Linked DNA regions of Homo sapiens. The protein of the gene in region 1 purifies or fractionates together with the protein of each later gene. This does not show direct contact. Each region holds a gene or a part of one and is shown in the gene's direction. Other genes may lie near its edges. The genes, in order: ASB2 and NT5C2.

The links.
Region 2: the proteins of ASB2 (region 1) and NT5C2 purify together in Homo sapiens (affinity purification with mass spectrometry, with the first as the bait; one large-scale study listed by BioGRID). This does not show direct contact.

Annotation. Positions count from the first base shown.
Region 1 is NC_000014.9:93,970,071-93,973,570, reverse strand, and holds part of ASB2 (ankyrin repeat and SOCS box protein 2), read left to right. Parts: intron 1-3,500. UniProt on the Homo sapiens protein: Substrate-recognition component of a SCF-like ECS (Elongin-Cullin-SOCS-box protein) E3 ubiquitin-protein ligase complex which mediates the ubiquitination and subsequent proteasomal degradation of target proteins.
Region 2 is NC_000010.11:103,102,466-103,106,499, reverse strand, and holds part of NT5C2 (cytosolic purine 5'-nucleotidase), read left to right. Parts: intron 1-698; coding exon 699-794; intron 795-1,118; coding exon of another isoform or gene 1,119-1,142; intron 1,143-4,034. UniProt on the Homo sapiens protein: Broad specificity cytosolic 5'-nucleotidase that catalyzes the dephosphorylation of 6-hydroxypurine nucleoside 5'-monophosphates.

The DNA of each region.
Region 1 (3,500 bases):
TGTGGGTGCTTTTCTTAGCTGGTGGTGTGGGCACTGCCGCAGGTAGTGGGCATGTCCTGTGCAGAATGGATGCTCATCATTGCAACAGGGCACTTTCCACATTCAAAAAACCTTCTACAGGGAGGTTTTTCCTGTGTTTTTCCTTCTTCCCTCTCTTCCTCTCACCATCATTCTTGCTCTCTTTTTGGAGTGGCATCCTCAATGTACATCAATAAGTAAATAAATTACCAAGACTTTTCGTTAGGGTCTTAGACTCTTCGGGAGAGATTCACCAAGATTTGGATCAGCAAGAGGCGCTCCATTTCAGATGCAGCCTCAGTCTCCTCCTCTATACAATGGGCACAGAGTGTCTGCTGGCGTGGGAGCAGAGCCAGCTTTGGACAGGTTCAAATCCCTGGTTGTCACCTCCTACAGGGTTATGTAGGGGCAGTCACACCCCTACTCCATACAAAGAGAAGAGCCCTGTCTTGTGGAGTCAGCTGGGGCCTGCAGCCCTGAGCACACCTCTTGAGTCACCTCCAGCAGCCCCAGCCCAGCCTTGGAAGCCCCAAGGCCCTGGCACCCGAAAGCCGGGAGCTTGAAATCAGCATCAAAAGGTCTGAGATGACGCAGCCGGTGGTGGTGGTGGCTGGGGGTAAACTGGAAGCTTGGCCTTTGTGGGTGCTTTCCTTAGCTGATGGTGTGGGTCTGAGCAAAGGCTCAAACTCCTAGCAGCTGTGAGGCCCTAGACACCAGGCCCCAGGGCAGCCAGAGGCTTGAGAGCACTGCCCCCATGGCCAAAGGCCCACCCTGGCTACGACTTGGCCACTCATAGGGGTCAAGGGCAAGGTGGCTGGGATTCCATCCCCCCTTCCTTACCAAGGTCAGAGCATTTCTTAGCCAGAGCAGAGATGAAGCCTCCAGAGGGATGAGGTTTAGGGTCACGGAGCAACTGACTCCTTGCCATGCCCTTAATGTTGTGTCAGAGGGCCTGATGAAGACGGCGCAGGCTGACGTGGTCTCAACCTCTGTACCACATACATTCCAGGCCTTAGTCTCCTCATCCGCGCCATGGGAAGACCACTCTTCTCCCTAGTACTGAAAAAGTAAAATGAGGCAACCTATGAAAGTGGCCTGGATGGAGACAGGACAAGGACCCACAGGCACCAGCTTAATTTTTATTGATTAGGTTCTAAAACAACAGGACCCGGGAAGGGAAGAGAACAATGTCCTACACCTCCGAGCACTCCAGCTGGAAGCGTTTCCTTGGGTTTCCTAGGACCACCCTGGATCCTGGGGGGAAAGGCAGATCAGAAAGATAAGTTTTGGCAGAAGGAGAGAGCATTGCAAGGAAGGAGGTCGAGCGCCCTGGGTGCCAAGGAACAGCCCAGTTCCTGACTCCTCGTGTGTCCCCAGGCTAGCCCAAGCAGCCAGGTTTCAGGATTGCCTTAGCTACGGGTCATGTGATATTTGGGAGACCTTGAAGCTTTTGGAGTAGATTTATAGAAAGTATGTATATGTGTGTATATTATATATATAATATATATTATATTATTAATATAAAAATATATAATTACCTATTATATACTTATATGTTATATGTTATTATGTGTGTATATTATATAATATATATAATACATGTAGCGTGTATGTAGTGTTTTTGAATATGAACACACATACACACACACACATAGTCTTCAGTTTGATTCTGGCCTTCACTCAAATCTTGAAAAACATCCGGTGGTTGCTATTCATTGTGTGGGATGAATACTTGGTGTAAAATCAGATGTAGCCTCTAGTCTCTTCCTTGTCACTTTTTCCCTTAGTGTGCCTCAGTCTCCTCATCTATAGAATAGGAACTATAATACGCTTATAGATTTATTATGTGGTTCAAACTAAAGACAAATATGAGAGAGAAATTCACTGCAAGGGAAGGTGTTATGGTTATGATTCTCCCCATACCTGCTGCAGTGGGACGTAGTGACCTGAGGGTGACACATGGATCTGAACCACAGGCTTTGCATAAGAGCTAAACCTAAAAGGTACAAGTGAACCCTAACCAAAATACTCATGCAGCACTTGCTCTGTGTTCAGCACCATTAAATGAATTACGTGCTCACTAAATGGCTGCTCTTGTCATTTGTTGGCAGTCACCTCGTGCAGAAATTCAAGCCTCCAAAGTCTAGGGCAGCAGATGATGTGAGCAGAGAGGGCAGGGGGACAGGAGGGTTCCTGGAGAGTGGGGAATTTGAAAGGAGTGTGCAGAATCCATCCTGCACCCAAGCTGGCTTCGGGGGAGGGCGTGGAGATCCCCTTCCTCCCCAAGCTCCAGCCCCATGATTGACCCTTGGGACCACCCGGCAGGCTCTGCGCACAGCCCGGGGAGCTGACAGTCACAGCGGCAGTTTTGACCACAGCTGTCACGCGAAGGCTGGGCTTGGGGCTCATTTTCACTTTCACTCTCAATCTTGTTAAATGGAGGAGAGCTTGTGGGAATTCAAATCCCTTGGATGGAGCCTCCTAGAGAACCGCCAGCTGGGCACGAGTTTCAGGTAGCATCCTCCCAGCAGGAACAGGTTTAGGCTGTTTCACCCACTTTCTGGGATCACGGCAGAGAATCGCAGCATCTTGGGACCTGTGGAATAACACGAGCAGATTTTTAGGGGCCACCGGCTGTGTGCCAGGTGCTCCACATTTATACCTGTCACCTAATTTCACCTGACAACACCTCCACAGGCAGGATGCCATTAATATCTTCATTTTATAGATGAGCAAAGTGAGGCACCGAGTAACCTGCTTCACATCACGTGGCCAGGAGGTGGCAGAGCTAGGGTTGAGTATAGGCAGTGGGGCACTCGGGCCGTGCCACCGTCTACCACTGTGCAGTAAACTTCTCCATAACAGCTGTGCTTCCAAGGGCTTGAAGCACTGTCATGATCCTATCGTTCATTCACCCGTCTGTCCAGCATTTATTCAATACCTATTGTGTACCTGACTTTGGGTTAGTTCCTGGGGTTACAACATGAGTGCGACATAGTCCTGCTCCTCAGAAGTTTCTAGACTTTCTAGAGAGACAGGACCATAGCAGGCAGTCCAAGCAGTAGAATGTGAAGGGGGCCCTTGGAGGCAGCAGAGGACTCTCAGCCATCAGGGAGGCTTCCTGGTAGAGGAGATGCTGGAGCTGTTTCTGGAAGGGCACCTTCAGGGCAGGGTAGGCTGACGAGCAGCTCCATCCACAAACACAGCCAAGGATGCTAAGTGGCTTGTGCAGCCTCACATGTCCGACCCAAGTCCCTGGCATGACCCAAGCCTCTGGTGGAGCTTGGTGTGGTGGAGGATGGCTGCCAGCCTCCTTCTTGGCCCCGCCTTCCCAGCTGTGTCTCCTCTAGCCCCCAGTTTTCTGCTAAGACATCTGGAGAGTGACCACCTCCCACCCCAGCCCCTCAAACAACCACATAGACCCACCCCATCCACCGCCAGTTCCCGGGCAGACCCTGGCTGTCTGCAAACCTGGGTTGGTA
Region 2 (4,034 bases), on another chromosome or scaffold:
AAAAAACCCCCCAAAACATTGAATAATTCTTTGTTGTTTTTTTGGTTGGTTGATGTTGATTCTAAAATTACCATGAACTTTCCATATACACCATATCTTGGTGTTCCTGAATTAAGCTCAGTTTATTGCAACTGAGGAAGACCCACTTACAGGTAAAAAAGGAGATTACTAAAACTGATGGGCAGTAATCACAGGTGGTGCTATTTGGGGCTGTTGGCAAATAGGTACGTGTTTCTCTAATACACTTAACATGATAGAAGCTTGGCAGTTTCCATTTCTGGATTTGATAGGGAATATTTAAGATTAAGAAAATGATGTTTGAGATGCTATCATATATATCCCACATACAGCATCTAATGGAGAAAAATATAAGCCTTCTCAGTTGTCCAAGAAAAAAGACTATGTTTTAGAATGGTACCAGCTGTGTAGTAAGAAGAATGTTTTTTATACCTTGTTTGATTAAGCACTTATTCCTTACAGAAAACAATTATGATTTTCTGTCTGGACGGAGTCAATATTTTTTAGTTGCTTTAGAATTAGTTTTTAAGATTTTACTCACTTTAGCTATATTAGGACATACTTTGAGTTGGTACAAAGCTTGAATTAAATGAGGTTGGTTCATGATGATTAAATACTACTACATAAAATTATTGCCTGTATTACTTTGCATTATCAATAATGTCTTCATTTTCACATAGGGGACTTGTCTTTGACACACTGTATGGAAATCTTTTGAAAGTCGATGCCTATGGAAACCTCTTGGTCTGTGCACATGGATTTAACTTTATAAGGGGGTGAGTACAGAGAACCTTTAGCCTCTTTCTAATGTTAAAGTCAAACAATGTGAAGATGACATCATCTCCCCAGATGTAATATATTTCCCTATTACTTTTCATCATTAAAGAGCAAATTCCCTTACATAAGGTTAGTTAACAGTTATTTATTAGGCAGTTGGAACCCAAACTGACATATAGTTAGCAATTACATTTTGTTTAAATTAAGTGCCTTCCAATTATACAGCATACAACAAAACTAATCTTAAAACTTGCCCAGAAGAACTTTAGTAGTTTTGACTTATTTGAAATTCTAAGATTTTTATTTTCTTCTTTCTAATACAGTTCTCAGGTAGCTGTTCAGAAGAGGTATGTATATAAAAATGCTTTGAAAAAATTTTAAACTATAGCAATTTAAATGATTAAGAGATTTTTAATAGCCAATACGTTTTTTAGATTCTAATGAATCTAAACTTTGAATCCTGACATTTGATTGTGTCATTAAAAAAATGTAAACATAAGGTTAAAGTGAATATGTGCTAATAATATTTTAAACAAATAAGAATAAGCTTTATTTTCAAAATAAAAATATTTCCACTATTGTCACTAATTTGAACTTTTTACCCTAGTAAACAGCAGATGAAATTTAGTATCTACTATTTTTTTGTGAAATGTCCCGATATTTTCAAATCATAATGCCACAATTTGACAACTTCTGTAGCTATAGCTTTACTGTTATACATTTTCTCTACTGTTATGCCACCTTATTTACTATTGACATTGTATTAAGGTCAGAACAACAGCTCGTAAAACCAGAATAGGATGTGTGTCAGTCTCTTATGTAACTTTTCCATTTACTATTCATTCTTGATGGCAGAATAGGAAAAACACCAGGCTACATTGAAATGTTTAAAAAGACAATGTCTTTTTTTGTGATAAGAGGCACAAACCAACTGTAATTGTACCAGAGCTTCCTTTAGATTTGAGGTCACAGGATGCCCCTTAGAATTGAAGCATCTAAGACTCTTTAGTTGGCATTACTGACATTACACAGGCTCAGAGATTTCCATGTATACATGAGAACGGTGTGAAGTAAACACCCATCTTGACACATCTGAGCAGGCCAGTGATTACATCCACATTTCTTTCACTGTTTCTTTCATGAGGGGGTTTGTTCAGGATCCATGAAAATATCAGGAAACAGGATTTAGAATATGAAGTAATTACAGGTTGTACTAGTAACTTAAGCTATTTTATACACAGATATTGTCATCATAACTCAGAATCTCAATGAAGATGAACCAGGGTTCTATTATGTCTAAAAAGGAATTTTTGTATTATAAGGGAGGGGTAGGCAGAGAAGAAAAGAGAAGCAGTTGGATAAGTTAGTACTACGATCAAATTTCCAACTCAAGATCCACAGACTTCCTCTCTTCCCTTAAATAAGCCAATAAAGTTTCCACATAGCTCCTTTGCTAATGCATTTAATAGTGTTTCAAAAATAAGTCATTTATGAGTAAATGCAGAATCATTCAAATAGCACTTAGCACTGTGCAGTCTTTAGAGTTAAACAGAAAAGCTGGCCAGGCACAGTGGCTTACGCCTATAATCTCAGCACTTTGGGAGGACAAGGCAAGAAGACTTCTTGAGCCTAGGAGACCAGCCTGGACAATAAAGTGAAACCCTATCTCTACAAATATCAAAAATTAGCTGGGCATGGTGGTACATGCCTTTGGTCCCAGCTATATGGGAGACTGAGGCAGGAGGAGTGCTTGAGCCCAGGAGGTTGAGGCTGCAGTGAGCTGTGTTGGTGCCACTGTAGTACAGCCTGTGTAACAGAGCAAGACCCTATCTCAAAAAAATAAAAATAAATTAATAAAATTAAAATTCCCATGAAAAGAAGAGACTGAAGATAGAGGGAAAGAAAGTTATCGAAGCTATTACAGTGGTAGACAAGGCTGGAAAAGAAGGACTCCATCAGGCTTTGCTAATGAGTTAGGACCTTATTTTTTGATAAATTTTTATTCTGTGGGTCACAGAAAGTTAGTAGTAATCTGTGCTGTAACTGTTTTCTTCCCATTCCAAGTGTAGCATTTCTTTTATGATATATTACCTCCCCCAAATTGATTTTTATTTTAAATATATACTAGTGTGATTTGACACTGAAGTTTACAATGTAATTGCTAACTATATTTATAAATCAATTTGGGTTCTAACTGCCTAATAAATGTTAACCATCTTTATGTAAAGGAATTTTTCTTTAATGATGGAGGGAATAGGGAAGTATATTGTATCTAAGGAGACAGTGTCAGCTTATTAAATCTAACTGAAGAAAGTATATTTTTACTGTTACCTTCCACCTTACTTTTATTAAAGAAAATCTTGGAAAGCTAGAAGATAAGATACTCTACAAAGTTATTCATTATTGGGAACTCTCATCTCAGAAGAGTGACTTAAGACAGGGAGCTAATGTGATTTTTATATGTCTAACTAGAGTTTATGCCATTTGTAGTTAACAAACCCAGGCAGGAATTAATCCAGGTCACTCTGAGTGTGAGCTTTAAATTTGATTTCCTTTATTTACATTGTTAATCTCCATGTATTCACTGTCAGAACTGTGCATTTTTATATTTTAGTATTTTTCCCTTTGAGTTTCTCTGAAATGTTTTCTTCTAGAAGTGTTTTTGCATCTTTAACAAATTCTGCTTCACTGGCTTTTTTCTTTTAAACCTTGAATTTTCTTCATGGTTCTGTTCTGTCTCTTCTCTTCCTTCTCTGCACACTAAGTGGTTTCATCTCCTCTAATACTTTTCATGATTCCATCTAGTATCTGTACGTAGATGATCTCAGTTATCTCTCAAGGCTGAATCTCTTTTAAGTTCTTGACCTTTGTTTCTAATTGCCTAATAAAAATCAGTTTACTTCAAACTTAGTATCACTAAAATAGAACTACTCTCACATCACTTCTTATCTAGTTTTCATATTTCTGTTCATCGTACCAACCACCTCTCAGAGACACCTTAGCATGGACATCATCATCTTTGACTCTTTAATGTTCCCCCAGCCAAATCTGCTCAGTTTGCCGGGTCTTATTTTACCTTGGTAATCTCTCTTGAATATATGAGTGAGCTGAGATCACGCCACTGCACTCCAGCCTGGCCGACAGAGTGAGACTCTGTCTCAAAAAAAAAAAAAGAAAAAAGAAAAAATTCTGAGAGTCAACTGGGTGATTCTGGGTTGCACAGCTGATCTCTCTATGCT